Homo sapiens: one gene and its partners. The protein of the gene in region 3 interacts with the protein of the main gene of each other region in a biochemical or structural test. Each region holds a gene or a part of one and is shown on either strand. Other genes may lie near its edges.

Evidence for each region.
Region 1: the proteins of RUNX1 (region 3) and FOXP3 form a complex in vitro, tested with the Homo sapiens proteins (one study listed by BioGRID).
Region 2: the proteins of RUNX1 (region 3) and ELF4 form a complex in vitro, tested with the Homo sapiens proteins (one study listed by BioGRID).
Region 4: the proteins of RUNX1 (region 3) and WWTR1 form a complex in vitro, tested with the Homo sapiens proteins (one study listed by IntAct).
Region 5: the proteins of RUNX1 (region 3) and ELF1 form a complex in vitro, tested with the Homo sapiens proteins (one study listed by BioGRID).
Region 6: the proteins of RUNX1 (region 3) and VDR form a complex in vitro, tested with the Homo sapiens proteins (one study listed by BioGRID).
Region 7: the proteins of RUNX1 (region 3) and RNF44 form a complex in vitro, tested with the Homo sapiens proteins (one study listed by BioGRID).

Annotation. Positions count from the first base shown.
Region 1 is NC_000023.11:49,252,136-49,255,201, forward strand, and holds part of FOXP3 (forkhead box protein P3), read right to left. Parts: intron 1,933-3,066; coding exon 1,782-1,932; intron 1,068-1,781; coding exon 991-1,067; intron 1-990. UniProt on the Homo sapiens protein: Transcriptional regulator which is crucial for the development and inhibitory function of regulatory T-cells (Treg).
Region 2 is NC_000023.11:130,072,498-130,076,930, forward strand, and holds part of ELF4 (ETS-related transcription factor Elf-4), read right to left. Parts: intron 2,256-4,433; coding exon 2,084-2,255; intron 1,712-2,083; exon of another isoform or gene 1,661-1,711; coding exon of another isoform or gene 1,645-1,660; coding exon 1,552-1,644; intron 1-1,551. UniProt on the Homo sapiens protein: Transcriptional activator that binds to DNA sequences containing the consensus 5'-WGGA-3'. Transactivates promoters of the hematopoietic growth factor genes CSF2, IL3, IL8, and of the bovine lysozyme gene.
Region 3 is NC_000021.9:34,786,370-34,790,802, forward strand, and holds the end of RUNX1 (runt-related transcription factor 1), read right to left. Parts: 3' UTR 1,432-4,433; downstream 1-1,431.
Region 4 is NC_000003.12:149,647,413-149,651,845, forward strand, and holds part of WWTR1 (WW domain-containing transcription regulator protein 1), read right to left. Parts: exon of another isoform or gene 2,428-4,433; intron 1,691-2,427; exon of another isoform or gene 1,513-1,690; intron 1-1,512. UniProt on the Homo sapiens protein: Transcriptional coactivator which acts as a downstream regulatory target in the Hippo signaling pathway that plays a pivotal role in organ size control and tumor suppression by restricting proliferation and promoting apoptosis.
Region 5 is NC_000013.11:40,949,315-40,953,747, forward strand, and holds part of ELF1 (ETS-related transcription factor Elf-1), read right to left. Parts: intron 2,123-4,433; coding exon 2,015-2,122; intron 660-2,014; coding exon 492-659; intron 1-491.
Region 6 is NC_000012.12:47,852,604-47,857,036, forward strand, and holds part of VDR (vitamin D3 receptor), read right to left. Parts: intron 3,199-4,433; coding exon 3,027-3,198; intron 1-3,026.
Region 7 is NC_000005.10:176,529,970-176,534,402, forward strand, and holds part of RNF44 (RING finger protein 44), read right to left. Parts: intron 2,548-4,433; 5' UTR 2,504-2,547; coding exon 2,397-2,503; intron 2,225-2,396; coding exon 2,035-2,224; intron 1,662-2,034; coding exon 1,494-1,661; intron 1,053-1,493; coding exon 879-1,052; intron 775-878; coding exon 613-774; intron 238-612; coding exon 113-237; intron 1-112.

The DNA of each region.
Region 1 (3,066 bases), on a different chromosome or scaffold from region 3:
TGGGGTCAAGGATTTGGAAGGGGTAAAGGGCCAGGCCAACTTAAGGGTCAGGGAAGGGGTGGGTTAAGAGTCAGGCTGGGGTGGACTCAGGTGGGGGGTCTAGGGGTGAGGGATGGGATGACTTGGCTTTAGGTCAGAAGCCAGAGATGGTTTGAATTATCGAGTATCTTACGTGTCAGGGACATGGTTAGGTGGTTAGGCTCAGGGCAAGGATGAGGTTAGTTGTGGGGTTCGGTGTGGAGTGAGGCTGAGGGTCAGGGAATTTGATCAGTTTGGATTCAGGAATGGGATTACAGAGTCAGCGATGATGATTGCAGTGAGGCTATCAGTCAGGATGGGGCTAGGTCAGGGTTTCAGTTCAGAGACAGTCGGGGAATATCTGGTATCATGTAGGGGTGAGGTTCAGGTTTGGGGTTAGGTGTGGCGCTAGGATGAAGGTTCTGAGAAGGCATTGGGGAGGCTGAGATGAAGGAGTTGGGATGGGGTGATGAAGTTAAGGATCAAATGGGTGTTACAAGGAAAGGTTGGGAATGGTGCCCAGTTGGGGGTGTATTGACATACTGGGGTACGTTGGGGCCAGGGAAGGAGATGGGGTTGGGTTGGCATAAAGGCTGGGGAAGGAGTTAGAGTAAGAGCTGGGGTACGTTTAGGGCAAGGTGCAGAGATGGGGTTAGCTTTAGGCTATTTTATGGGTCCAGGAGAGGGTTAGGTATGGGGCTGAGGTGGACATCTGGAAAGGGGTAGGTTTAGGGTCAGAATTTGGCATGCTCTGGCCTGGATGGTGGTTTAGGTTTGGATTTGCGGACAGGTTTGGGGTGAAGCCAGCATGAGGGGTCACATTTGAGGCACGGCTTGGGGATCCTTGGGGCTGGGGCTTGGGAATGGAGGAACCCACTCTGAGGGCACTCAGAGGGAGACAGGAGTTTGGGAGGCAGGTCCCCCACCCCATCTTTGTCTTCCTCCTCCTTGGGGCCGAGCTGCCCTGCTTACCCAGCGGATGAGCGTGGCGTAGGTGAAAGGGGGTCGCATGTTGTGGAACTTGAAGTAGTCCATGTTGTGGAGGAACTCTGTCAGAGGGTGGGGATGAATCAAGCCCCATGCAGGACCTCCTAGCTAGCTCCCTGTCCCCTCCCCCTACAAGGTGAGTCTACAGGCCTGAGATCTCACCGTCAACACCCGTGTCCACGGGCACAGGTACTGTTTGCTGAGCACCTGACATAAGTTGTATCATTTATTCTTTGCACCACTTCTGCCAAAATAGTTCTCCCCGAGGTTGAAAAGAAGCGGAGTAACTTGCACACCAAAGGATGCAAGAGGTTAAATGGCAGAGCCAGGATGACAGTCAAGGTCTCTGATCCCTGCTAAGCCCACAGGCCAGGCCTGGTGGAGAGCAGTGGATAGGTGAGCTCGGGCGAATCCACCCCGATTTTCCTTGGTCAGGGGAGGAAAGGAGGTGCTCCTGGAATTACTTAGCAGGGTCCCTCCCTTCTGATGGCCGAATATAGTAGCTGGAGTCCAGAGTGGGTGAGGCATGGCCCCAATCCCCAAGGGAGTCAGGGCTAGGGGCCCGACACTCGAGACCATATGGGGGGCTTTCAGGCCACGGACATCCCGAAAGGAAGCTTTTGTGAGCGGATGCATTTTCCCAAAGGCTGAGTGGCGGCAGCTGCAGTGGTGGTGGTGGTGGGAAGGGGCAGCATGGAGCTCCTTTGCACCCTCCACCCAGAGCCTGTCAGGATTAGGAGCTTGGGGGCACCGTGTAGTGCAAGGACCATTCTTACCTGGGAATGTGCTGTTTCCATGGCTACCCCACAGGTGCCTCCGGACAGCAAACAGGCTGTCAGGGGCCTCCCGGGGGCCAGACCAGGCTGGGACGACAGGGCCTTGGCTGCCAGCAGCTACGATGCAGCAGGAGCCCTTGTCGGATGATGCCTGGGTGAGGGGGAGAGGCTGGTGACCCAGAGGCTTAAACTTCCCACTTTTTACTTTCTATTTTATGTTTTTTATTTTTTTTGATACTGAGTCTTGCTCTGTCGCCCAGGCTGGAGTGCAGTGGTGCAATCTCGGCTCACTGCAACCCCCACCTCCCAGATTCAAGCAAGTCTTCTGCCTCAGCCTCCCGAGTAGCTGGGACTACAGGTGCCCGTCACTACGCCCAGCTAATTTTTGTATTTTTGGTAGAGATGGGGTTTCACCATGTTAGCCAGGCTGGTCTCGAACTCCTGACCTCATGTGATCCACCCGCTTCAGCCTCCCAAAGTGCTGGGATTACAGGCATGAGCCACTGCGCCTGGCTCCACTTTATTTTTAAATCAGTGTTTTTCAAAGCAAGGACGCCCTCTTCTAAATTCCAGTCTGAGGTGGAATCCCACAAAACAGCATGAGCCGTATTTATTAGAGCACAGGTGCGGATGTCGTATGTGGCCACTGATGCTGGGACCATGAACTGGGGTTGAATAGGGCTCTTTACCACCCAACTGTGACCTTGGGAAAGTCACCTAAACCCCCCTGGCCTCAATATTCCTCATCTGTACATTCGCATCATGAGAAATAAATTACCACCAGCAAAGCGCTCAGAAACAGTGCCTGGCCTCCAGGGCTGGCTTCATGGGCGTGTGACCTATGTGGTTATGTGGCACCCTGTGCTTTGTTTAATGCTCTGTGGTCGCCATCTTGAAATCTGAACAAGGGGCCCTGCAGGTTACATAGCTGGTCCTGCTGGCACACAGCCTGCATCTGGCAAGTCTGGCTATTTGCATTTGCTTTAACAACTCAGGATCACAGTGTTTGGGGATCTTAGAGTCAGAGGGTTTTTTTTTTTTTTTTTTCTTGAGACGGAGTCTTGATCTGTCGCCTAGGCTGGAGTGCAGTGGTATGATCTCAGCTCACTGCAAACTCCGCCTCCCAGGTTCAAGCAATTCTCTGCCTCAGCCTCCCAAGTAGTTGGGACTACAGACACCTGCCACCACGCCTGGCTAATTTTTTGTACTTTTAGTAGACACAGGGTTTCACCATCTTGGCGAGGCTGGTCTTGAACTCCTGACCTCGTGATCCACCCGCCTCGGC
Region 2 (4,433 bases), on a different chromosome or scaffold from region 3:
TTCCAAGGGAGGGCGGGGGGCTCATCCCCCCAGCCCCAGACACAGGATACACCTGAAAATGCCTCATGTGGCTTGTACCACGAGGAGAGGAAACATCTGCAGAGCTGTGGGCACAAGCTGGCCCCAATTACAGCTGCCACATTTATAGCCCACTGTTGGTGGTAGGGAAGTTCTAGGCGGCACCCCAGGTAAAGGGCCACCTTGATTTAGTCCTTGGCTCATTTTACGACTCAAAGGGGCCTTAGAGATCATGTAGCCCCATTCCTGTGTTTTCCTGATGAGGAAACTGAGACAGACCCAGAGAGGGGAAGTCATGTGCCCAAGGTCACACAGCAAGTTGGTGCCCGGTACAAATAGGCACCCATTATTGGATCCTGGATGAATACTGGTGAGAGTCAGGACTAGAAATCTCTCAGATTTCAGCTTTATGGCTTGCCTTCCCTCACTGTACCACACCACCCCTTGGGAGAAGGCAATCTGGGGGAACCCTCCTGTGCATCTGCCTGAGGGGTCATTGGGAAGAGCCTGCCTTGGGGGCCCTCTGGGGAGTTAGGAGCCTGGTAGGATGGGCAAGGATCACTTATTTCTTTATTTTATTTATTTATTTATTTAGACAGTCTTGCTCTTGTTGCCCAGGCTGGAGTGCAATAGTGTGATCTCGGCTCATTGCAACCTCTGCCTCCCGGGTTCAAGCGATTCTCCTGCCTCAGCCTCCCAAGTAGCTGGGATTATAGGCATGTGCCACCACGCCAGGCTAATTTTTGTATTTTTAGTAGAGACGAGGTTTTGCCATGTTGGCCAGGCCAGTCTCGAACTCCTGACCTCGTATTCCACCCGCCTCAGCCTCCCAAAGTGCTGGGATTACAGGTGTGAGCCACCACACCCGGCCTGGATCACTTATTTCTAAAAGAGCCACATGCTGCATATCTCAGTCTTCCTGGGAGCTAAGCAAAAGAGCAGAGGGGCCTGAGAAAGGCACCCTGGCCAATATTATTCAGCCTGAAATGGAAATAAATTATTATTATTTTTTTGAGACAGAGGTTCGCTCTTGTCACCCAGGCTGGAGTGCAATGGTGCGATCTCGGCTAACTGCAACCTCTGCCTCCTGGGTTCAAGTGATTCTCCTGCCTCAGCCTCCTGAGTAGCTGGGATTACAGGCTTGCGCCACCACGCCCAGCAAGTTTTTATATTTTTAGTAAAGATGGGGTTTCACCGTGTTGGTCAGGCTGGTCTCGAACTCCTGACCTCAGGTGACCCACCCGCCTCAGCCTCCCAAAGTGCTGGGATTACAGGCGTGAGCCACCGTGCCTGGCCTGAAAATGGAAAGAAATTCTGACACGTGCTACAACATGGATGGACTTTGAGGACATCGTGCTAATTGAAATAAACCCATCACCAAAATACAAAAAGATAAAAGTCATATGTATATCGGTGGGTGTGGTGCATGTATACCTGTGTGCACACATGCCTGAGAAACCAATACATGGATTTCATATTTTTAAATGGAATTATTTTGTTGCCTTGAGTTCAGGCACTGGGGTTCAAACTTACAGATCTGCTTCTCATCCAGGATATCGCTGGGAGACTCCATATTGAGTAAGACTTCCGCGGTTGACATGGTGTGCGAGGTGGCCTCATTGTCATCTGGTCCGGGTTCCATGGTGGGAGGAGAGAAGAAAAGTTCCCTCAGGGCACAAGGCAGGGGGTACAGCTATAATCAGGGCCAGCCCGAAGAAAGGATGGTGGTAAGCATCCTTCGGGCTGACCCTGAAGTGAGTGCTAAGTGAGGGAGAAACAGGGGACCCTGACCAGAGGTACTGAGGGACAGCCAGGAAGGGCCCAGCACCCCTCCTTACCTAACTCTCCACCCCCTCAGCTGGTCTTCACTCCTCATTGTCCCACCCCACTTCCACAGACCATGAATCTACTAAGATGGTTCCCTCCTCTGTGAAGCAGCACAACTTTTTGGCTGGTGGACTTGCCCATTCTGCACGGGGTTACTAGAGGCCATTGTGGGCTGCTGTTCCCTAAAGACACAGCCCCTTTTTCTACCACACCTTCTCTGCCCAGGAAGGGAACAGACCTGTCAGCAAAAAACTGCCTTCCAGGATCTGATCCTGCGTCATGCACAAGGTCCCGTCTGTTATGATGCCATTGTGAACGTCGTCCAACTCCAGTCCCGAGTACAGATGCAGTAAATCAGGGTAGGGTACCTGCTCCACGATCACAGCTGGGAACACAGAGGGGTCTTCCAGCTATGGAGAAGACAGGGATGTGATTCAAGACCCACCCAGCTCTTCCAGCAAACCCTCCCTACCAGAATCTGGCCCTCTGTGCAAGTCCTTATTCTTGGGTTCATCAGGGACTGTCCTTTGTATAGGATGATATAACTCTGGGTCCAGCCTCATTAGGTGATGCTTTGAGTGGGTTCTTGATGAATAGATGGGTTAGCTCTGCACCACCAGCCCTTTAAGCATTTTTTTTTTTTTGAGATAGAGCCTCGCTCTGTCGCCCAGGCTAGAGTGCAGTGGCATGATCTCAGCTCACTGCAACCTCCGCCTCCCGGGTTCAAGCGATTCTCCTACCTCAGCTTCCCCAGTAGTTGGGATTACAGGTGTGTGCCACCATGCCTGGCTAATTTTTATAGTTTTTGTAGAGACAAGGTTTCATCATGTTGGCCAGGCTGGTCTCGAACTCCTGACCTCAGGTGATCCACCTGCCTCAGCCTCCCAAAGTGCTGGGATTACAGGCGTGAGCCACCATGCCCAGCCAAGGGCAAGCTTTTTTTTTTTTTTTTGAGACGGAGTCTCACTCTGTCGCCCAGGCTGGAGGGCAGTGGCGCAATCTTGGCTCACTGCAAACTCCGCCTCCTGGGTTCACGCCATTCTCCTGCCTCAGCCTCCCGAGTAGCTGGGACTACAGGCACCCGCCACCACACCTGTCTAATTTTTTGTATTTTTAGTAGAGATGGAGTTTCACCGTGTTAGCCAGGATGGTCTCGATCTCCTGACCTCGTGATCCACCCACCTCGGCCTCCCAAAGTGCTGGGATTACAGGCGTGAGCCACTGCACCCGGCCAGGCAAGTATTTTTAACTGGTTGTAGTTATGGTTTAACCCGTGGCCAGGTTAGGGCTCAGTCTATGAGGATTAGATTCATTCTAAGGCCATTGGGAATAGACCAGCTGATGGCAAGGGCAAGGGGCTCAACCTATAGTCGGGGGACAAGAGGGATTCAGTCTAGAGTCAGGGCTGGGGACCTAGTTCGCAGCCAGAGTTAGGGGCTCAGACATCTTCGGGCTCCGTCTGTGGCAATGATAGTGGGAATGAAGACAGAACAGAGGCATTATAGAAGTAGAAATGTCAGGACTCAGTCACTGCCTGGATGGGGGAGAGGGGTTCAATTTCCAGCTTCATTCAACAGGGACATGGAGATACTGCTCATGCCAAGGGAGGGCCCAGGAGGAGGAAGAGCAGGCTGTGGACCAAGATAAGGGCTACAATGTCTGGATGTGGTGAGCTTGAGGTACCTTTGGGACATCTGAAATAGAGACGCCTATCAGGGAGTCAAAAATAAGTGTCTAACAGTTCAAAAGGGAGCTGGTGGTCGTTCAATCCCTTGGAGTAGATAAGAAAATTGAGATGAGAATTCAACCCCTAGAGAACAGAAGTGTTTTGAAATTAAGCAAAGCGAAATTAAAAAGCAGTATGACTGCATGTGTTTTTTTTAAAAAAACTCCATATAGAGGCTGCATGTGGTGGCTCATGCCTGTAATGCCAGCACTTTGGGAGGCTGAGGCAGGTGCATCGCTTGAGCCTAGGAGTTCACACACCAGCCTGGGCAACACAGCAAGACCCTATCTCTATTTAAAAAAAAATTAAAAAGAAAAAACCTCTATAAATAAATAAATATGCCAGGATGTTAATCATAGTTTTCTTTTCTTTTCTTTTTCTGAGACAGAGTCTGGCTCTGTCACCCAGGCTGGAGTGCAGTGGCACGATCTTGGCTTACTGCAACCTCCACCTCCCAGGTTCAAGCAATTCTACTGCCTCACCTTCCCGAGTAGCTGGGATTACCGGCGCCTGCCACCATACCTGGCTAATTTTTGTATTTTAGTAGAGATGGGGTTTCACCATGTAGGCCAGGCTGGTCTCGAACTCCTGACCTCAAGTGATCCACCCACCTTGGCCTCCCAAAGTGCTGAGATTACAGACGTAAGCCACTGTGCCTGGCCATAGTTTTATTTTCATTATGGAGTTTTGAATGATTTTTTTCCCCCTTTCTACTTTTTTGTATTTTCCAAATTTTCTTTCATGGGAATGTTAATTCTTTTTGTTGTTATTGTTTAGTCTCAAGATCTGTTTTGTGGATGATAATTCTTTTTTTTTCCCATGCAAAAAGAATGAGAATGATCCTCTCTGTGTAGTGTTCCTG
Region 3 (4,433 bases):
CTTCTTTGTGCATGGCCATGTCCATGTACTGCCTGATCCTACCCCTGTTTCCTACCTGTGCTCAGGAGCGGTGACTTCTAGGTCACATCCTTTCTTGCTGACCCCACTTTGGTTCCTGACATTTTTTGTGGTCCTCCTGCAGACCATTTAAGATCAATGTTAAAGCAAACTAAATATGGCCTGAGAAGGACTCCATATTTCTATATTTGAGTCCTGTGGATGAACTGTAACCTAGCTTAATGGTCAGACAAAATTAAAAACCTAACTTAATAGTATGCACCTGTAACAATAGCTAAGGGTTGGCCAATCCCAGTGGTCATAATTCAACCACTCATAGACTCCTGAATGTTCAAACTGCGTTCAAATAAGGCAAACGCCAAGCTGTAACCAATCTCACTGTATCTGTACCTCACTTCCGATTCTTGTACATCACTCTACCTGTTTGGTCTATAAATTTGTTCTGACCACGAGGCACCCCTGGAGTCTCCGTGAATCTGCTGTGTTCCTGGGGGCTGCCCGATTCACAAATTGTTCATTGCTCAGTTAAACTCCTTTAAACTTGATTCGGCTGAAGATTTTCTTCTAGCATCAGTCATGAGGTCCCATGAGACAGCAGTGACAGAACTGGAAGATACTTTAGACAGTAATTCTTGGTGGGAAGATACCTTGAGTTGAACCCAGAGTCTTGAAACTAAAATACTAAAGATACTTTGCACTGGGGTGGTGGTGAGAGAAGTATTTCTTTTAAAAAACTCCCAACCACTACCCAAGCCTGATTCCTGCAATGTACAGCAATGAAGGCAGATGAAGCTTCCTGGCCTTAGGTTGAACATACAGCCCTTTCCACTTTGGGTTGGCTAGTGTCATGTAACTCTTTTTAGTTTCTTTATTATTATTATTATTTTTGAGATGGAGTCTCGCTCTGTCGCCCAGGCTAGAGTGCAGTGGCGCGATCTCGGCTCACTGCAACTTCCGCCTCCCGGGTTCACGCCATTCTTCTGCCTCAGCCTCCTGAGTAGTTGGGACTACAGCCGCCACCACGCCAGGCTAATTTTTTATATTTTTAGTAGAGACAGAGTTTCACCGTGTTAGCCAGGATGGTCGCGATCTCCTGACCTCATGATCCGCCCGCCTCGGCCTCCCAACGTGCTGGGATTACAGGCGTGAGCCACCGCGCCGGCCTATTATTATTTTTTAAAACAAGCATTAAAACATGCTTCAGTGCTCTTTCATATGCAAAGAAGCAACCCTGGGAGCCTGCGCCTTTTCCAGGCCCTCATGCCTTCAGAAGCCAGAGTGTGCTAGGAGCACCGGGGGTGAGGACATAGCTTCAGCCTGAAGCTGTTCACTGGAGGTATCTTCCTAGTGTGTGCAGTGGGCCTTACTCAGTTTCCCAACCCTCCATCTCAGAGAAAGACAAAACCAATTGGATATGGTGTATGTACTTGTCAAACTGTTTATTTGCCATTCACACTGATTGTAACACTGGATTTACAGAAGAAACTGTGGTACAAAGAGAGGAAGGCTCTGGTGGCTCCTGAACAGCAGCAGTCCAGCTGCCCTGCTCAGGCTGGGCACGACGAATGCTCCCAGGAGAGGGGAGGCGGCCCACCCGACTGTGTACCGTGGACTGTGGACAGTGCAGTGCCTGCTCTCCTGTGCTATCTAGAAACACCTTGGAGAGAGGGTTCTGGGATATTCTCTCATGTCATCTGGCTGAAGACACCAGCTTGACAGTTCCCCTTTAAGAAGCATTCCATACGTTTGTACCAGGGAGAAAGAAGCCCACGCACGAATTTTCAGGATGTTTTGTGACCAAACCCAATAACTGCCACACAAATAGACCCTAGGTGGGGGCTGGCTTAAATAGGACCACATTTCCCGTTGCTTTTTCAGTAGATGTGTTATACCGTCATTTCAATTTGAAAGTTTATTTTTTTCCATTGATTTTTATACATCCAGAATAACACAAATAACCAACAGTTCTTTTTCTTTTTTTGCACATTCATTTCCCCTAGAACAAAAAAAGTGAACTTAAAAAAAATTGGAACCATGCTATTAGCTGTTTACAAAAGTGAATAAGAAGTAGCTCATTTTAAAGTCTAAAATAAACAAAGTAGAAAGAAGCATTTTTTTCCCTACAGTATTTAGCAAACCTAAGAAAAAGTCCTTAGAAACACACACAAAAAAATTGAAAAAAAGTTATAGGCATTAACAATATTTTATAATGAAGCTTAAAATCTATTTACATACATAAATACAATTAACTTTGTTGATGCAACTCTTCTGGAAGGAAAAAAAGAGCCAAATGATCAGCCTCATCAATACTGACCTGGCTAAAAACAAAATTCCCAACAAACACACAAAAATCCCAAAACAAATGTATACGCTACGGTAAACAAAAAGGCATTTTGTTCAGATGTAAAATATGTTTTGTGAGATTATTGTCAAACAAATTTTCATGTATAAAAGACCCAAACATGTCATTCCCCCCAAAAATAAAAACCAACAAAAATAAAAATCATCAGGACGGAATGTCCCAAAGAAACAGGTATTTCAAGGCAGAAATCTGCAATCCTAAATTGCAGGACATTTGAGTGGAACCATTCATTTCCTTTCTAATCAGAGCATTTCTGTTTATCTGCACAGAAACCCAAGGCAGCAGAAAGGCTGTCTATTTACTCACTGATTGTGATTTGCCCAGGAAAGTTTGCTGGTTTGGACAGCAAGCAGATCCAATATGGTTGGCAATGTCTCTGTTCTGCTGGAAGAAACCCATAAACAGGAGAAAGGCTGACAAACCATGTTCCTTTATGTGAAGGGGGAAGAACTGGACCTTCTTGTGTTCTGAAATTTGGTACTGGGTGGGGGTATGTGCTATCTGCTTAAGAGAACACAGGAAAAGGAGGAGGGAGAAAGTGGGGTTTGGAAGATAGAGGAAGAGAGAAAAAAAGGGAGATATTGGGGGGAAGAGAGGGAGGGAAATGTATTTTCAGATAGTGAGAAAAAGAAAGAACTGAAATATGTATCCATGTTGAAATCATAAATAGGGACATGAGTAAGCAGTAGAAATGGCTTATTCAATACTTCTCCTGGACCAGACACATGCAGTTATTACATGATTGGCTTAAGGGTCTCATTGATACCTTAACTTTCCTGAGGGCAATGAATAAAAAGATACCTTAATCTACCTGAAGTCAATGAATGCAATTTTTCACACACACACACACACACGCACACACACACACATACAAAAATGTGTTGCGTGAGACCTATCGCCAAAACAACTACAGTTTGATTTTTTTTGAAACAATTAAATACTATATATGCTGGTAAGAGTCTGTGAAACTCTAAATGACCAATCCAGTGAGCCTACAATAGTGACAAGCCCCCTCCACACATGGCTTTGAGAGTAAAGGTTCAATGTAAAAGATTATCTAATCAGAGCATGAGGCTGGTTTTGAGTTGGAATATCTTCAGTTAACAGAATTAAACTGAAAAACATAATTTTTTCCTTCATTTTTCTCCAGCATTTTTGCAGGTCAGACATGGTAACATGTGCTGAAAAAAAACATTTACGTTTAATTTGGGGGAAATGGGCTAATGGTGCTTTTCAGAAATTAAATTTTTACATTTGCTGACATTTTATGGTAATTTAGCTGCAAAAATGTAATACGGAATAATATATGAAACTGAGTTGTGGAGGGAATCCTGTCAAAAATGAAAGTGAATATATTCTGAGTTTGTCCGAGATCTGCTATAGCTCTTCTCTAGATAAGAACGACCTGACAACATAAGCTGCTTTACTCTTTAACTCTTACCAAAGTGCTACTGCATGTGTGTAAAACAAATAATCAATATATATATAAGAAAACTCAAAAACAAGTTGTTTTAAATAAGTCCAGCTGTTTTTGCTGCCTGCAGCCAAAGATTTGCCTAATTTGAATGCTTAAATTTATAAAATAAAAATCAAACACTGTTCTGAAGTCCTGCTTTCAAATACTCTTCAGAGTTGACCTGAAATCGTTTCAACGAATTTTAAGAGGTACGTTAAATAACCACCAGATCATTTGGAGCACACATGTGTCAAAATCAGCAGTTAGTATTTATGAGTTGTACAACAACTGCATTCTGACCAAATCCTCCAATAAAAATAGTGCCATAAAATTTACAGCGACATTGGATACCTTTGAATTGTAGCCACGGACAGTAGTGACATGAATCTTTCCTGTCACACTGGTGCACAGGTAAAAGCCCATATACCCCATAGGGTAGGGTCTCAGCCTGGTGAAAGCAACACAAAGATGTTGTTGAGTGAGCAGCACAGGACAGGGGGTCTCGCACAGGTGGGACCATGTTTTCCCACTTGTCTCCACTGAGGCACACAGAGGCAAATTGACTCCTCGAGGCCTGCTTCTGGTGGGCCCTTAAAT
Region 4 (4,433 bases), on a different chromosome or scaffold from region 3:
GGCCTAGGTGGGCCCTGGTGGGATGACTATGGTTCCAGAATCTCAGTTTTGTCTGTGTCTAGTTGATCAGCCTCAGAGGAACTGAGAAAGTACCGAAAACCACAAGAGAGTATTCTGGGAACAAGCAGACTCAAAAGCTATTCATTTACAAGCAGAAATGATAGATCCAGCAGGGGCGGTCCCAAGTCAAGGGTAGCCTGGTATCCCACTTACTTGGGAAGTAAAGACCACCCACAATTTTGGAACTGTACTTGCTAAATTGAATATAGGATGGAGCTATGAATGGAAAGATAAAAAGACCATAATTTCCAGACTCTTTTAAGTCAGCATAAAATGCTTAGTTCTCTAAACAACCAGGAAGATCTCAACATAGGTGACAATGGTGGGGTCTTACGCTACAGTCACAAAAAGCTAGGACTCGTGTATCTCAAAACTAAGGAGTGAGAAAGTTGACATTTACTAGCAAAAGGTCAATGAGCCCACCCTAGCTGAGGCTCCAGAACCTCAATGGGATGCATAATCATCTACCAACCAACACCTATCTTTTAATACAAGTCAGTACAAGCTCCTCTTAGTCTCAAAAACACACCCTCAGCATTTCTGCCTCTATACCTCTCTTCCCATCCTGTTTTTCCTGGAAGGCTTGTCTGCACACCTACCTATATCTTTGCCACTTTTTGAAGGTTCCATTTATGTCTAAGCACCTTTATGAGACTTCTCTGAACACCCAGCCTTCATTCATCTCCCTCTCCACTGCATTTAGTATCTGGAGCTCTGACATTAATCTTGCAGTCAAAGGGGCACAGATACAATGGAATGCCATTTCCAAGCATGGAAGACTCCTACGAATTCCAGGGTGCAAGTTTACAATGAAAATGGCTAAAAATAAATAATACAGGATTCCTTTCGAACACCTACTATGTGCCAGGCACTGTGCTCAAGTTAAGCAATGCCAAGCAAGACAAACATCGTTCTTCCCCTGATGGAGGTTACAGTGCAGTAAAAAAAGGAAAACCAAAACTAAACAAAACAAAAAAAAAACAGTAATATGAGAGTGGAGCAATGACTGAGGAAACAGAAGGGCCTATGGGAGGAGGAGCAGCAGCATCTAATCCAGAGTGGGAGCTGCAAGTTGGGGAAAAGTTCCTGCAGGATGTGGCATCTAAGCTGATATCTGAAGGTAATGGAGGAGTTAAGCAGGCAAAAAGCAGGGAAATAATGTTCCAGGCAAAGGAAACAGCTTGTGCCAAGTTCCTGAGGCCAGAAGGAGTACAGCCAATGGGAGAAACTGACAGACATTCTGTACAGCTGCAAATTTCAGACCTTTAGTCATATTATAAATGACTGACTTAGGACACACCTTACAAAGGCTTCCGGCAAACCAAGGTGGAAGGCAGCTGATCCAGGCTCTAGGACCACAGGTCGAAACCAGCTCTTTGGCCTGGTTTGTCTGTGTTCCCCTTCTCTCTCCAGATTCTGTCAGCTGCCTGCGGTGATAAAGCCAGCCACACATTTCTTCTTTTAGGACATACTCACGATGCTAACACAAACAGGAGTTCAATGCTTTTTTTTAATTTTTTTTATTTTTTATTTTTTTGAGGCAGAGTTTTGCTCTTGTTGCCCAGTCTGGAGTGCAATGGCATGATCTCGGCTCACTGCAACCTCTGCCTCCCGGATTCAAGCGATTCTCCTGCCTCGGCCTCCTGAGTAGCTGGAATTACAGGCAAGCGCCACCATGCCCGGCTAATTTTGTATTTTTAATAGAGACAGGGTTTCTCCATGTTGGTCAGGCTGGTTTCGAACTCCTGACCTCAGGTGATCTGCCTGCCTCAGCCTCCCAAAGTGCTGGGATTACAGGCGTGAGCCACCGCGCCCAGCCAAGTTCAAATGATTTCTAGTTGTAAATTAGCTGAACTGGCTAAAGATCTTTTAGATGGCACAAAGGCAAGGCCCTGGAAGATCATCGCCCCTTTCACCGTCTAAATCCCGAACAATAACAGGAATGAACTTGCAAAGGTGGTGTTTGTGCCAGGCACTGCGCTCAGCACTTTATAAATGTTTCTTCATTTCACTTCTTCTCCTAATAGCACTGAGCAAGTGAACATCATCTTTTCCTTTCTTATTTATTTTCTGCTATGCCTAGACGGAACATTAAATAAAAGCTAGAAGTCCAGGAAAGAGAGCATGCAAGTAAAGAATAAGCTGAAAGAAATCCATATGACCGCCGGGTGCAGTGGCTCACGCCTGTAATCCCAACACTTTGGGATGCCATGGTGGGCAGATCACCTGAGGTCAGGAGTTTGAGACCAGCCTGGCCAACATGGTGAAACTCTGTCTCTATTAAAAATACAAAAATTAGCCAGGCGAGGTGGCAGATGCCTATAATCCCAGCTAGTCGGGAGGCTGAGGCAGGAGAATCAGCTGAACCTGGGAGCAGGAGGCTGCCGTGAGCTGAGATGGCGCCATTGCACTCCAGCCTAGGCGACAAGAGTGAAACGCTATCTCAAAAAAAAAAAAAAAAAAAAATTCTGTAGAGACAGAATCTCGCTATGTTGCCCAGGCTTGTCTCAAACTCTTGGCCTCAAGCAATCCTCCCACCTCGGCCCCCCAAAGTGATAAGATTAGTGGTGTGAGTCACCTTGGTGGAAATCTTGATGAGAATAAAATATAAATAGACAATGGAGGTGTACTACCCATTTCTGGTATATTTGGGTTTTCTTCCATCATCTCTATCTCACCATCAATGACAGTTCCAAATAGCATAACCCAGACTCAGTTCAGAAGCAAACTCTAAAAATCCATCCACCACTCCACCACCACAGTTATGCGATCATCAAGGATACATAATTACAAGACCTAATTATGGGCCACACAATTGGCATGAGACAGCATGGCATAAGGACAGGAACACAGGTTTTGGAATCACAGAGTTCTAATCCCATCTCTGCCACTCACCTGTTATATGACCCCAGGACATTTATTTAACCTCACTGAGCCTCAGTTTACTTAACAGTAAAATGAGGTAATAATATATACCTGTTCATGGGATCACTGTGAGGGTTAAAAGAAATAATATACGTAAAAGCATCTAGGGTTATGAAAAAGTTCCATATGCATATAATTCTGTTGCTATCTCTCTGGGATGTGCTGACTCTCACTCTCTGCCTTGTCTGGCATACAGCAGGTAATCAACAAATGTCAATTACCTTTCCTGCTCATCTCCCCCTTCTCCATTTCCTCTTCCTCCCCTATCCCACACACAAAAACAGCTCAATTTGTAGTGACAATCTAGATTCCAAACAATAAAAACTAGACACTTCTCAGATGGAGTTGGGTATCCTCTGCCCAAAATGCTGAAGCAAAAGGGCACTTACAGTGAGCATTCCTATTTAGGTTTCTCTTAACCAGGAAAGTTGACTCTAACTCCTTATTTTAAACTTAAAACTGACTTTCAACTCCAGATCCAGGTTGTCCCTCAAAGCTACAGCTGTAATCCAGAGTCAAAAATCACCTGACCCCTATTGCCAAGGTTTCTGCTTCTGATTTTGGCTGGGTAAATAGGCTATGTGTGTTGGGAGAGAGAGAAGAGAAAGCAAGAACTAACTTGTACTGAACATCTCCTGTGCGCCAGATGCTTTAAATATGCTCATCTTTCAAACCACAATGCAACAGGTATCACTCTCTTCACATTACAGACAACTGAGTTAGCAGACAGTATTTTTTGAATGACAAAGGGCCCTTATGAAAACAGCTACATTATACTGTCATTCAAAGATAAACAGAAAAAACAAGCCAGAGTCAGAACAATTTTTAAGTAAATACGTTCAGATAAAAAAGGACTTGAAAAACTTACCTCCTACAAACCACTTCTTAAGAAGTTACTCAAGCATGTACTGCAGCAAAATGAGGGATAAACCAAAAAAATAGGAAGACACGGGAAAAGGAAACAGCACTTCCAGCCATGGAAAGAAGTTCCAGGATGACAGCTCTGTAGTGGGCTTAGTGAATAACCAGTTCAGAACGGCACAGAACGAGAAAGGAATCTCGGCATACAGCTTAGACAAAGAAGACTCGATAGGTTAGACAAGATTGAGAGCCTAGAAAACTTTTGAGATCATAATAATGGCAAATAATGCATGAACACATTAAAAGGCAATCAGAAATACTAGGGAAAAAATTTAAGAAAGTCATGGTCCAAATATGAAAAAACTAAAAGGTAACACAAATTTAAACAACTGATGAAGAGTGAGAAAACAAAAAATCCCATTTGACTTTGGGGCTAGATATCTCATCCTTTGATTGGCCCAGGAATCCTAAAACCAGACCCACAGTGCAAGTCTAAAATCCAATCCTGACACACAAGGCAATGAATCATTTCACAGAATTGTAGTCATGTAAATGTTGCCTATGGATTTTCTTTTTTTTTTTTTTTT
Region 5 (4,433 bases), on a different chromosome or scaffold from region 3:
TCTACTATGAAGAAATACCTCTTTTTCTTATTTATTTATTTTTATTTTATTTTATTTCTTAGAGATAGGGTCTCAGTCTGTTGCCCAGGCTGGAGTGCAGTGGCATGACCTTAGCTCGCTGAAACCTGTAACTCCTGAGCTCAAGGGATCCTCCACCTTGGCCTCCCAAGTATCTAGGACTACAGGTGCCTACCGTGCCCAGCTAATTCTTAAAATTTTTTGTAGAGATGAGGTCTTGCTTTGTTGCCCAGGCTGGTCTCAAACTCCTGGCCTCAAACAATCTTCCTGCCTCGGCCTCCTAAAGTGCTGGGATTACAGGCATGAATCTCCGTGCCTGGCCAAGAAATAACTCATAATTTCCATTTTGTGCCTTCAATGTTTTTCTTACATAAGTTTTAACTGCAGCAGGAAAGAACTATGTAGAATAAAAGTGATATCTAGATTTCACACCAAGACTTGACTATGCGCCCTAAACAAAGTAACCCACCTACCTTTTTTCCTCTTAGGCTGTTCTGGTGATGAGGCTCCCGGTGAGTCTGCATATTTTTCTTGCACCTGCTGTGTTTCCATCACTTCAGGAATCCCATCTAATGTGACGGACACATGGGTGACTGGGGCAACAACCATGTCATCTTCAGGTGAACTAAATATATTATTATCTAATGAAAATAAAATCAACTAATTATAGTCCACTGTGTATTATAAGTTAAAAAACGATTGAGAAAATTTCTTGTTTCTATTATGACTAGAAGATTAAAGTAGAAATAAAATCTTGAAATCTATTCCTGCGTTTAAGTTCCCCTTCCCAAAATCAAATACCCTAAACCAGTCCAGGCACGGCGAGCTATTTCAATGTCTTTCTTACTTGACTTCCTATCACCAGTCTGTCTCATCTCTCCTCTTGATTATTCACATTGCTGTGAGAGTTATTTTCTGAAACCTAAGTCTGACCTGACCATAAAATTAGGGGAATAAAAAACAAAACTGACATACCTTTCCATAGTTCATAGGAAAAACAAAAAACAAACAAAAAAATAATCACAACCCATCTCTATAGCATGCCTTACAAAGCTTCTGTAATCTAGTTCCAAACCTACCTTTCCAATCTCATTTCCCACCCACCATGAAGCTTACACTTCAACCACACCAAAACATCTTGATCTCAAAGATTTCATTCATTTTTTTTTTAACAGATCTGTGTCTTGTATCTTTAACTCCATTCCCTCCAGCTTGAATGACCTTTCATGTCTCTTCTACCTATTAAAAGCTTGTCATTTACAGCCCAGGTCAGAATACTCCTTCAATGAAGCCAGTCTCTGATATTCTCAGCTAGAATACCCACTGCTACTAGAGCAATTCGCTATCACTCTTGTGGCCTTTATTCTTGGCTTTGTAGTTATTTACATAAGTAACTGTCTTCAAAATTAAACTGTAAGCTTGAGGAAAGGAACAGTATCTGCTCATTTGTATCTCATGTTATTGCCTAATTATTGCTGCTGTGAATATAGCAAATATTGAATAAACATTTTAGACTGATTTAGCAATAATTTACTTTATGAATTTGATTGCTTGTCAGAAAAGCCCAAAGGAGAACAGGAATTTTAAAGCAGATCAATAATGTGGCAGTGAATTTTATGCCATGATGTGTCAGTAAAATTTTCAATAGATTGTTGCCTATTTGCTGATAACTACAGAGATGACTAAATTATAATCATTTGGGCCCTTGATACCCTAATACTCTCATCAATATGTTAAGAGAAGAAATTCTGCATGATCTTCTATTTGGTAAGTAATAAATTACATTTTTTTGTTCCCAAAGGCTTCATTCTCAAATTAAAATGTCATCTTTAACTCTACGTTTTTGCAAAGGCACCTCAATTCCTACTATACCTTAAAATGTGATTGTAACAAAAAATATATAACATCATTTCTAATCTCTTGATTTTACTAATAAAGAAAGATGGCAAGAGTAACTTAACAAAGTACATAAACATAAACAATCATAATCACTCACTTATTCGTTTTTCATCCAGCATAGGGCCAGGGGAATCCATATTGAGGAGTGCCTCAGCAGCCTCAATAGTTTCAATTGTTTCATCCCCGTCATGACAAGAAGCTTCAACTGCAACACATTTAAAGAGAAAATTAAATTAACTACGAGACATCTGTTACTCTGAAAGTCATACACCGCTTATCTCTAGAACCAGAATACATCATTTAATATTTTAGTTTATATATATATATAAACTATAAACACACAAAATCATACCAAACCTGGCTGGCGCAGTGGCTCATTCCTGTAATCCCGCACTTTGGGAAGCCGAGGCAAGCAGATTGCTTGAGGTCAGGAGTCTGAGACTGGCCAACATGGAGAAACCCTGTTTCTACTAAAAATACAAAAAATTAGCTGGGCGTGGTGGCACGCACCTGTAGTCCCAGCTACTCAGGAGAGTGAGATAGGAGAATCGTTTGAACCCAGAAGGTGGAGGTTTCAATGAGCTGAGACTAAACCACTGCACTCCAGTCTGGGTGACAGAGTGAGACTCTGTCTTAAAAAAAAAAAACAGAAACTATTACATTAAAAAATCAATATTTCCTTAATATTAAATAGCCAACCAGCATTCAAATGTTCAATTGTGTTAAAAAATCATAAATGGTGGCAGTGCAAGGAAAGACAAGACAGTTTTTTGCTTAAATCAAATTAAGTCTGCATATTGCAATTGACTGATACATTTCTTAACTTTCTTTACATTTCTGAGTTGCCATTCATCTGTCTAGCTTTTTTTACTTTGCAATTTATTTGTTGAAGAACTCAGGCTGTTTATTCATGTAGAATTTCCCATAGTTTGGATTTTGCCAACTATATTCCTATTGTGTAGCTTAACATGTTTTTCTATACCCCCTCTAACTGAGTAGTCATATCTGGAGGCTTGATGAAATTCAACTTTAATTTTTTTTGGCAAGACTAAAAAAAAATTTATGTATTTTGATGACAGCTCAAAATATAATCTAAGCCTCAAATTTCATAAAATCATTAAATCTTTTTGGTTTTGCTTTTTTTTTTTGAGACAAGGTCTTACCCTGTCTCCCAGGCTAGAGTGCAGTGGCTCAATTATAGCTCACTGCAACCATAAACTCCTAGGCTCAAGCAATCCTACCACCTCAGCCTCCCGAGTAGACAGGACTACAGTCTCAGGCCACCATGCCCAGCTAATTTTTAAAATTTTTTTAGAGACAGGGTCCCGCTATGTTGCTCACTTGAATTCCTCAAGCCAGGCCTGAATTCCTCAAGCCAGGCCTTGAATTCCTGGGCTCAGGTGATCCTCCCTCCTTGGCCTCCCAAAGTTCTGGGATTACAGGTGTGAGCCGCTGCATCTGTTCAAATATTTTTATTATGAAAATTTTAAACAAAATAAAAATTGTGGAGTATAGTATATATAATGAATCCCCATGTGCCCATTCCTAGCTTCAACTATTATCACCAAATGGCCAATCTTCTTTCATCCATACCCCACTCACTGCCCTCAAGTCCTTACCCTCTGTACAGGATTATTTTGAAGGAATCTAAAATACCATATTTTATCTCTAAATACTTTAGCATGTGTATCTAAAAGATGTCTAACACAATACTACTATCATATCTTAAATATACTAACAATAAATCTTTTTTTTTTTTTTTGAGACAAAGTTTCAATCTTGTTGCCCAGGCTGGAGTGCAATGGTGTGATCTTGGCTCACCGCAACCTCTGCCTCCCAGATTCAAGCGATTCTCCTGCCTCAGCCTCTTGAGTAGCTGGGAATACAGGCATGTGCCACCATGCCCAGCTAATTCTGTATTTTCAGTAGAGACGGGATTTCTCCATGTTGGTCAGGCTGGTCTTGAACTCCCGACCTCAGGTGATCTGCCCGCCTCGGCCTCCCAAAGTGCTGGGATTACAAGTGTCAGCCACCGTGCCCGGCCTACAGTAATTCTTTAATATCATCTATTATAGGCTGAATGGTATCCCCCAAAATTCTATGTTGACATGCTAACCCCCAGTACCTCAGAATGTCTTTAAAGAGATAACTGAGTTAAAATGAGGTTATTAGTGTAGGCCCTAATCCAATATGGTTAGTGTCCCTCTAAGATGAAATATGAACACTGGCAGGTACAAAACATAAGACCATGTGAAGACACTGGAAGACAAGTCACCTATAAGTCCAGAAAGAAGCCTCAGAAGGAATTAACTCTACCAATATCTTGATCTCAGACTTCTAGCTTCCAGAACTGTGAGAAAATAAATTTCTCATTTGAGCCACTCAGTCTGTGGTACTTTCTTATGGCAGTCCTAGCAAACTAACACATCATCTGAAGCGCCACCTAACACGTGTAAGAACAAAAATGTCCTATCCTTATCTCTTTCTTCCCCTAGAGCTTCTCAAAGGCTCCCCGT
Region 6 (4,433 bases), on a different chromosome or scaffold from region 3:
GTTTTCTCTTCTTCACCATTTTCACATTAATTCCAGGGGAAGAGCATCGAAAAATTTCTGTTATTTGGGTTGGTGAGAGGCATAAAATAACACAGAGCCAGTTTTCTCAGGGCAGAAACAAACTGGAAAGTTCTGGGTTTAGCTCTGTGAATGACCATCATCTCACTGGCAAGGCATTAATTTCGGCAATAACTCATGGCTTTTCTACACAGCTAAGAGGGCCATACACCAATATATGGCACCTCATAATCTGTTTCCATCCAGAGCCGGCAATGTTAACTCATTTTCCAGCTCCCCATATTCCAGCACTGAATCTGAGCATTAGTATCTAGGAAGCATTTTGCCCCTTCTGCCGTAAATACAGCTATTGCTGCTACTTGAAAGACAATAACATTGCTTGAGATTGATTTACTTCTCTTTCTCAACCATATTGTTTATGTATTTTATGGCAATATACCAAATGAACTTTGGGGAAGAATGAAGATACAAATATACATAAATATAGCCATTTCCCAACACATCTATTAAATGTGTCAATACTCTATTGTTTTAAGAATATTGGCCGGCAGTGGCTCATGCCTGTAATCCCAGCACTTTGGGAGGCCGAGACAGGCGGATCACGAGGTCAGGAGATCAAGACCATCCTGGCTAACACGGTGAAACCCTGTCTCTACTAAAAATACAAAAAAATTAGCCGGGCGTAGTGGCGGGCGCCTGTCATCCCAGCTACTCGGGAGACTGAGGCAGGAGAGTGGCGTGAACCCGGGAGGCGGAGCTTGCAGTGAGCCGAGATCATGCCACTGCACTCCAGCCTAGGCGACAGAGCGAGACTCTGCCTCAATTAAAAAAAAAAAAAAAAAGAATATTGGCCGGGCGTGGTGGTTCATGCCTGTAATCCCAGCACTTTGGGAAGCTGAGGCTGGCAGATCACCTGAGGTCAGTAGTTCAAGACCAGCCTGGCCAAGATGGTGAAACCCCAACTCTACTACTAAAAATACAAAACTAGCCAGGCGTGGTGGTGCGTGCCTGTAATTTCTGCTACTCAGGAGGCTGAGGCAGGAGAATTGCTTGAACCCAGGAGGCAGAGGTTGCAGTAAGTTGAGATCGCGTCATTGTACTCCGGCCTGGGCAACAAGAGGGAAACTCTGTCTCAAAAAAAATACAAAAAATTAGCCAGGCATGGTGGCACGCTCCTGTAGTTCCAGCTACTTGGGAGGCTGAAGCAGGAGAATTGCTTGAACCTGGAAGGCGGAGGTTGCAGTGAGCTGAGATCGCGCCATTGCACTCCAGCCTAGGTGAAAAGAGCGAAACCGTCTCAAAAAAGAAAAAAAAAATTAACACTGCATGAGTATTTAAATATAAGTATTATATACAGTACTAGTGTTAAAACAATGAAACATAGGAATAAATGAATGAAATTTATATGAATGAATTGATAAAGGAGGATCCCTTCTCCAGTAGAACTCCTTATACTTATATATTTTGGCAAAAATGTATCAGTATGGTTAGGAAATGGTCTTTATTTTTTTCTTTTTTGAGACAGGGTCTTGCTCTGTTGCCCAGGCTGGAGTGCAGTGGTGAAATCATGGATCACTGTAGCCTTGACCTCCTGGGCTCAAGTGATTCTCCTGCCTCAGCCTCCCTAGTAGGTGGGACTACAGGCATGTGCAACCACACCTGGCTAATTTATAATTTTTTTTTTTTGTAGAGAAGAGGTCTCACTATGTTGATCAGGCTGGTCTGGAACTCCTGGGCTGAAGCAATCCTCCTACCTCAGTCTCTCAAAGTGTTGGGATAGGCATGTGCCACTGTGCCCAGCCAGGAAATGGTCTTTAAATGTACATTTTGGTGAAGGATGCCAGGGTCATATATGCCAGTAAACCTATCTCTCTCCAGGATTCCTAGACTGTTTCACAAGTCTACATGGCCAAGCCCTTCTCTCTATCACTTCATTCTGCTCTCAGAGTTGGGGTGTGGAGGAATCATATCGTTGAATTTAAAGAGATAATATGAGGATTCCAGTCAAGCCAGCTGGAGTGAACACAGCAGTGAGCTGGGAGTTCTAGGCCTGGCTCTGACATGCTGGCTCCAACACCTGGAAGGGATCCTGGCTGGCCATTGGACCTCTCTGGGCTTCCACACCATCATCCAGAAAGTGCGGGGATGGACTAGCTCTCCAGTGCTGGCCTGCAGAGTAACGCAAGACAGGCTGCACTTTCTAAATACAGATTTCTGGGCCTACGCCAGAGATTCTGATTTCGCAGGTCTAGGGTAGGGTCTGAATCTCTATTTTAAAGAAGCAATGGAGGCTGGCTGCTGTGGCTCATGCCCGTAATCCCAGCACTTTGGGAGGCTGAGGTGGGTGGATCACTTGAGGTCAGGAGTTTGAGACAAGCCTGGCCAACATGGCGAAACTCCGTCTCTACTAAAAATAAAAAAATTAGGGCAGGGCGCGATGGCTCATGCCTGTAATCCCAGCACTTTGGGAGACCAAGGTGGTTGGATCACGAGGTCAGGTGATCGAGAGCAGCCTGGCCAACGTGGTGAAACCCCGTCTCTACTAAAATTATAAAAATTAGCCGGGCTTGGTGGCCCACACCTGTAATCCCAGCTACTTAGGAGGCTGAGGCAGGAGAATCACTTGAACCCGGGAGGCGGAGGTTATAGTGAGCCAAGATAGTGCCACTGCACTCCAGCCTGGGCATCAGAGCGAGAATCTGTCTGGAAAAAAAATAAAAATAAATAAATAAATAAATAAATAAATAAATTAGCCGGGCGTGGTGTCTGGTGCCTGTAATCCCAGCTACTTGGGAGGTTGAGGCAGGAGAATCGCTTGAACCTAGGAGGCGGAGGTTGCAGTGAGCCGAGATCGCGCCACTGCACTCCAGCCTGCGTGACAGAGCAAGATGCCGTTTAAAAAAATAAAAAATAAAAAAAAGAAGTGGTGGATGAGTGATCTCCAACCCTTCTTGTAGCTCAGTCTAGGACTCTGACTCTGTTCCCCAGAGATTGCAGAAGTTTCTTACCTGAATCCTGGTATCATCTTAGCAAAGCCAATGACCTTTTGGATGCTGTAACTGACCAGGTCAGCCAGGTGGGGCAGCATGGAGAGCTGGGACAGCTCTAGGGTCACAGAAGGGTCATCTGAATCTTCTTCACTCAGATCCAGATTGGAGAAGCTGGACGAGTCCATCATGTCTGGGAGAGATGAGGGAAGAGAAGGAGCTATTTAAGGATACTTGGACCAGGCCCCCTCCTGCCAGACCCTGCAAAAACCTGGTGTGCCCTGGCAGCAGAGCCAGCTGGGAATCCCACAGTGACTCCACAGGTCACCCTTCAGCCCCAGGCTTCCCTCTGGGACTCTCTCTGCCTCTTTCAGCAGCATAAGGCAGTAAAATCAAAGAGCCAGAGACACTCAGAGCAATGAGACTTCCTCAAGCAGACTGTGTGCTGTTCCTATGGATCTCAATCAAGAAAGAATTTGGGACCCATCAAGTCATGGAAAAAAATGTTCAACCTTGCTAATGGTCAAAGAACTGCAGTGTAGAACATCTATAATTTTCACCTACAAACCAGAAACAAAAATGTTTAAATATTGATGCCAGTATTTATAAAGATGCAGGAAATTAGGCAATGCCTATGAGGGCTGGGGTGCTAAAGGAGGTGCACATTACTGAAGGTACTCTAGAAAGCTATTTGACATTAGTCAAATAATTGTGTGTACTCTTTGACCAGTAGTCACACTTCCTGGAATTCATTGTAAGGGAAAATTTCCGATAAGTGTAAATATTTGGCTACAAGTATACTGTTTTCTTATTAAAATGCTGAGAAATAATCCAGATATCCAATGGTAGGGGATTAGGTACATTATTGTATTCCAGAATACTATGCAGCCCTTAAAAATTATATTCTGGATGCGTACTAACTGGTATGGAAAAACAATGCCATATAAAAAAAAGCAAGTCATCAGATTGTATACAGCACAATTTCTTTTCTAAATATACATATGTGTTTTTTTTAAAAAAAAAAAAAAAAAGAAAGGAAGGAAAGCATGATGCCTCCCAGACTCTCAGCTGAGCTGGAGGGGACAGGTCCTCCAGGGCCAGAGTGGTCCCCAGAGCTCAAGTGGAAGGTGGACCTCAATAGGACCAACACGTTCACCTTCCCACTCCAAATTTCACCTTCTGAAGGGCCCAGGATTAAAATATCACGTAAAGGAAGCAGGTCACCTCCACGGAGGGGGCCATGGGCTGAAGCCTGGCTTAGAGGAAACAGCATGGGCCCGGGAGGCTGATGCTACACAGCTGGAATCCCAGCTTGGCCTCTTCCCCAGTGTGGGCCCTTGGGTAAGTCACCCCTTTCTGTAACAGAGGGGCTGTTGTGAAGACGCTGCATAGCGCACAGTATTTATGTAAGTTTCCATTAGGGAGCCT
Region 7 (4,433 bases), on a different chromosome or scaffold from region 3:
GCCAGGTGGCTTCAGAGGCCCTGGGGCCCCTGGAGCTGTGTTTAGGTCTAACCACTGGAGGTTCCAGGAGAACAGGGCATCAGGGACCTGGGGCGGATGTGCGGATACTTACAGGAAGTAGGGCAGGAAGCTGGGGTAGTAGGGTGGTGGGGGTGGGGGTGGGGGCGGCGGGGGCAGTGGCTGCTGCAGGCGGTATCTCTGGGTGCTCAGTCTCCGTGGCATCATGTGAGAATATGGCTGCAAGAGGGGCCAGGTGCAGGTCAGCCCAGCAGGCCTGCCTCCCAGCCGCCCCGGAGCCCAGGTGCAAGTCAGCCCGGTGGGCCTGCCTCCCAGCCGCCCCGGAGCCCAGGTGCAAGTCAGCCCGGTGGGCCTGCCTCCCAGCCGCCCCGGAGCCCACGTGCAAGTCAGCCCGGTGGGCCTGCCTCCCAGCCGCCCCGGAGCCCAGGTGCAAGTCAGCCCAGCAGGCCTGCCTCCCAGCCGCCCCGGAGCCCACGTGCAAGTCAGCCCGGTGGGCCTGCCTCCCAGCTGCCTGGGAGCCCAGATGCAGGTCGGCCCAGCGGGTCTGCCTCCCAGCTGCCCTGGAGCCCAGGTGGGGGTCGGGGTGGCACTCACCACACCAAAGGACAGCTCCTGGTGCAGCGGATCGTGGGGCAGGTAGTGCAGGGGCACCGACGGGGAAAGGGCTGGGCCAGGCGCAGAGGTGGAGTAGGTGAAGCTGCCCAGGGAGGGCTGGTCCCCACGCAGGTCCACGTCGTTGTCGAGCCGCTGGAGGGGCTGGAAGAACCAGCGCCGGGTCAGCAAGTCAGTGAGACGAGGCTGTCCTCACCCTGCCTCCCCCCACGCCATCTCCCTCCAGCATCGGACCCATGCCGACTCACCATCCGAGGGTGCTGGGTCTGCAGAGACACAAACTGCCCCAGGGGCGCCATGTGGGTGGGCTGGGGGGGTGGGGCCGGTGGTGGGGGGTGCAGGATGTAGTGGTCACTGGAGATGAGGTGGGGGTAGGCCTGATAGGGCACAGGCAGCTGCTGCATGGTGCACGCCTGGATAAGCTGCCAAGAGAGGGGGCAGGGGGCTGAGAACGTTCTCCTGGGCTCTGGGCCAGGTCTACGCCATGCCACCCAGCAAAAGGCCCCCACCGGGCACACACCCAGCAGCTCCAGGGTCTGTATAAGAAACCCTGTGGAAGGCCCATCCCTGTCCTAGGCCACCCAGGCAGGACACTCCACTGTTAAGGCCCACAGCCTCAACTCCTGGGCCTCTGCCAAGCTGTGAGGCAGGTACAGGGGTACTGGAAGGTTCCTGAACCTTGAAACACTCTATTACCAAATGTGAACACGCGTATGCTTTCCTGGGGAGGCCAGGCAGGCGCTCTGACAGCCTGGATGGCTGGATAGCTCAGCCCAGTTCAGGGCTGCCCTGGGCCCGCTGAGCCGCTGGCCTGTGCCTGGGGCTTGCAGCTGGTGGAGGAGGAGCTAGAAACACTCACTCACCGGGGGCGGGAGGCAGCAGAGGGGGTAATGCTGCCCACTGAACATCACGGAGCATGCTGGGAGCTGCTGGGCACTGCAGCCAGGGATGTGCTGGCCTGTAGGCAAGGGGAAGCCTTGGGTCGTCACTGTGGTGACCGTGTAGGACAGAGGGACAGGTCCCTGGTGCACCTGTGGGTGGAGAGAACGCCGGGAAAGTATGAAAAGGAAGCTGACCGCGAGGGCTACTCTCAGGAGAAATCATCCTGCCACATCCAGCTGCCGGCTCCCTTCCCTTCTCCACGGCGGCCTACCTCAGTGCAGACCAGACTGTGCCTCTACTCCCAGGCCCCCGGGGCAGAGAAAGCCCCGTGGGAATCTAGCTCTGCTAGTCACCCAGTGTGGCCCTTTCCCCGGGCCTCAGTTTACCTACCTGTAAAGCAGGGCCAATAATGCCTCCCTGGAACGTGAAATGAAGCAAGCTAGGTGAAATCTAGGCCTTGCTGCCTCTGCCTCTCAGACTGGCTCACAGGGCCAGGGGCACAGGGGATGGGGTTCTGCCTACCTGCTCGTGGAGATCAACCATGAACGGGCTCTGCTGGGTGGCTGGGTGCAGCATTCGGGGGCTCCCGCCGGCAGGAGCCGAGGCTCGGCGCTCCTCTACGGGGAGGTGTGGAGGTCGGGACGGCGGCTGCTGGGAGGGTAAGCGCTCATCCCGGGCAGGCGGGCTGGCCAGGGGGCCCTCGAGGCCAGGGCTGCACCACAGAGAGGAGGCCCCGATAGGACTGAGGGGGGCCACTCGTGCACAGAGCAGGGAGAGAAGCCAGGGTGACTCCCCCCATGGGGAGGGAAGGCAGCTCAGGGCCCTGCGCCCCACCCCTGCTGGCCCCCATGCCCCAGCACCAGGACTGGGAGGCTCCTTCCTACCTTCCCCAGAGCTGGCCCGGGGTGCTGCCAGGTCCCGCAGAGAATCGCCGCTGGCCCACGGGGGCGGAGGGTGGCCACCTAGTCACTGCCAGAGCCCATGGTCGCATCGGGGGGGCAGGGGGGTGGAGGGGCTGGGCCGGGACTCACAACCCTAGGAGGCAAGGAGACAAGAAGACTGAGGCACCTGGCCAACATGGTGAAACCTCGTCTCTGCTAAAAATACAAAAACTAGCCAGGCATGGTGGTGGACACCTGTAATCCCAGCTACTTGGGAGGCTGAGGCATGAGAATCGCTTGAACCCGGGAGGCGGAGGTTGCAGTGAGCTGAGCTGAGATCGCACCACTGCACTCTAGTCTGGTGACAGAGCGAGACTCCCGTCTCAAAAAAAAAAAAAAAAAAAGAAAGAAACTGAGGCACAGAGAAGTCCAGGCGCTTGTGCCATGAGGGGTCAGGAGACAGAACCAAACCTCTGCAGTGTGACCCCAGGGACCAATGGTGTTCAGCCGTGCCCCTCCTCCGAGCCCTGGGGTCCAGTGCTGACACGCCAGGACAGCTCAGCCTGCCAGCACCCAGGCCTCACCCTCCTGCTGTGTGAAATGGGACCCAGTCCCCCTCAGTTGCGGAGCTCAGCGAGCTGGCCAGCGTGCTTCCAAGCCAGTGGGTTCCTGGTAGGCTCCTGCTGGGCGGGGTCTCAGGGCACCCTGTCTTGGAAAGGGGCTTAGGGCCAGACCTTTCTCTGCCTTACACCAGGGGCTACAACTTGGCCTCCAGGCGGCAGCTGGGGGTTCCTGAGGAGGGTCCACATCCTCCCTTCCCTCTGGCTGGTTCCAGCAGGGATTCCAAACAGGCCTGGGACCCAGTTCTCCTCTTACTGGTGCCAGGCAAGAGGTTCTAACCCGCTCCTGCCCTCGGGGGCTTCCAGTCCAAAGCAAGACACTATTCTTTCTTTCCTTAACCTGCTCCCACTGTGCCTATCCACGAGTGACTTCATCTACCTTTCAAGGAATGTATAGCTGGCCCATTTTACGGGGGAGGAAACTGAGGCTCAGCAAGAAGAAACTTGCCCAAAGCCCCACCGTAAAGTGTTAAAGCTGGGAGGTGGGCCAAAGAAAGCCTCTCCCTGTGCTCTGCTGCCGACGGAGAGGACCAGCCCCAGGCTTCATGGGAGGTGATGAAGGAAGTCAGCCTGGGGAGACTGTGGAGTCTGGCATGCAGCCAGGCCCTTGCTCTGGGGCCCCCAACCCAGCCCTCAAAGTGGGAGGTGGTGCCTGCTGAGAAAAAAAGGAAGGAAGAACCCGAGAGAGGAAGCTGAATAGGAATGGGTTGGGGCAGGGTCTCCTGCCTCCGGTCAGAGATGAGGGTCCAGGTGGAGGATGTCGAGGGACCTGGCTCAACCTCAGGGTTCCGCTCAACTCAAAGTTGGGACGAGGCCCTGGCAGGAAAAGCTCTAGAACCTGTCAGGCCCTGCAAAGCTGAAGGATGCGTCCAACAGGACCAGATCTTTGTTGTTCCTGCCACAGGGAGGCTCGTTCCATCCCTTCCCCATCTAACAAAACTCCTATGCATCCTTGATACCCAGCTTTCAATGTCACCTCCCTGTTGACACAGCCAGGGAGCCAGTGTAACTGTCAGCTCAACACCTAGTTCCTTCCTGCCAACAGCGGCAAGAACCATTTCCTCTGTGCTGCACTTCACAAGCCTGGGCCCTGCTTCTCAAAAGGAGCCCGCATGGGAGACCGGGGCCCGACCAGCAGAGGGTGTGGGCAGGGCCAGGGACCACCTTGTGTCCAGCTCAGGGCAGGCCTGATGTGAGAAATGTGCACGGAACAGAGCCAATCACACAGGTCCAAGGTCACCCAGTCTGGCAGCAATGCCAACAACTGACAGTTGGGAGATTACAAAACACCTGGCTTCTCATGGCAAGCCTGGTCCCACTTGTTTCTGCCTGGCCCCCTCACTGGGAGCGAGAGCTTTCCCTCCAGGTCACCCAGGCCCAACCTCTGCCTGCCCATCATCGGGGAATGGGTTTGTGACCC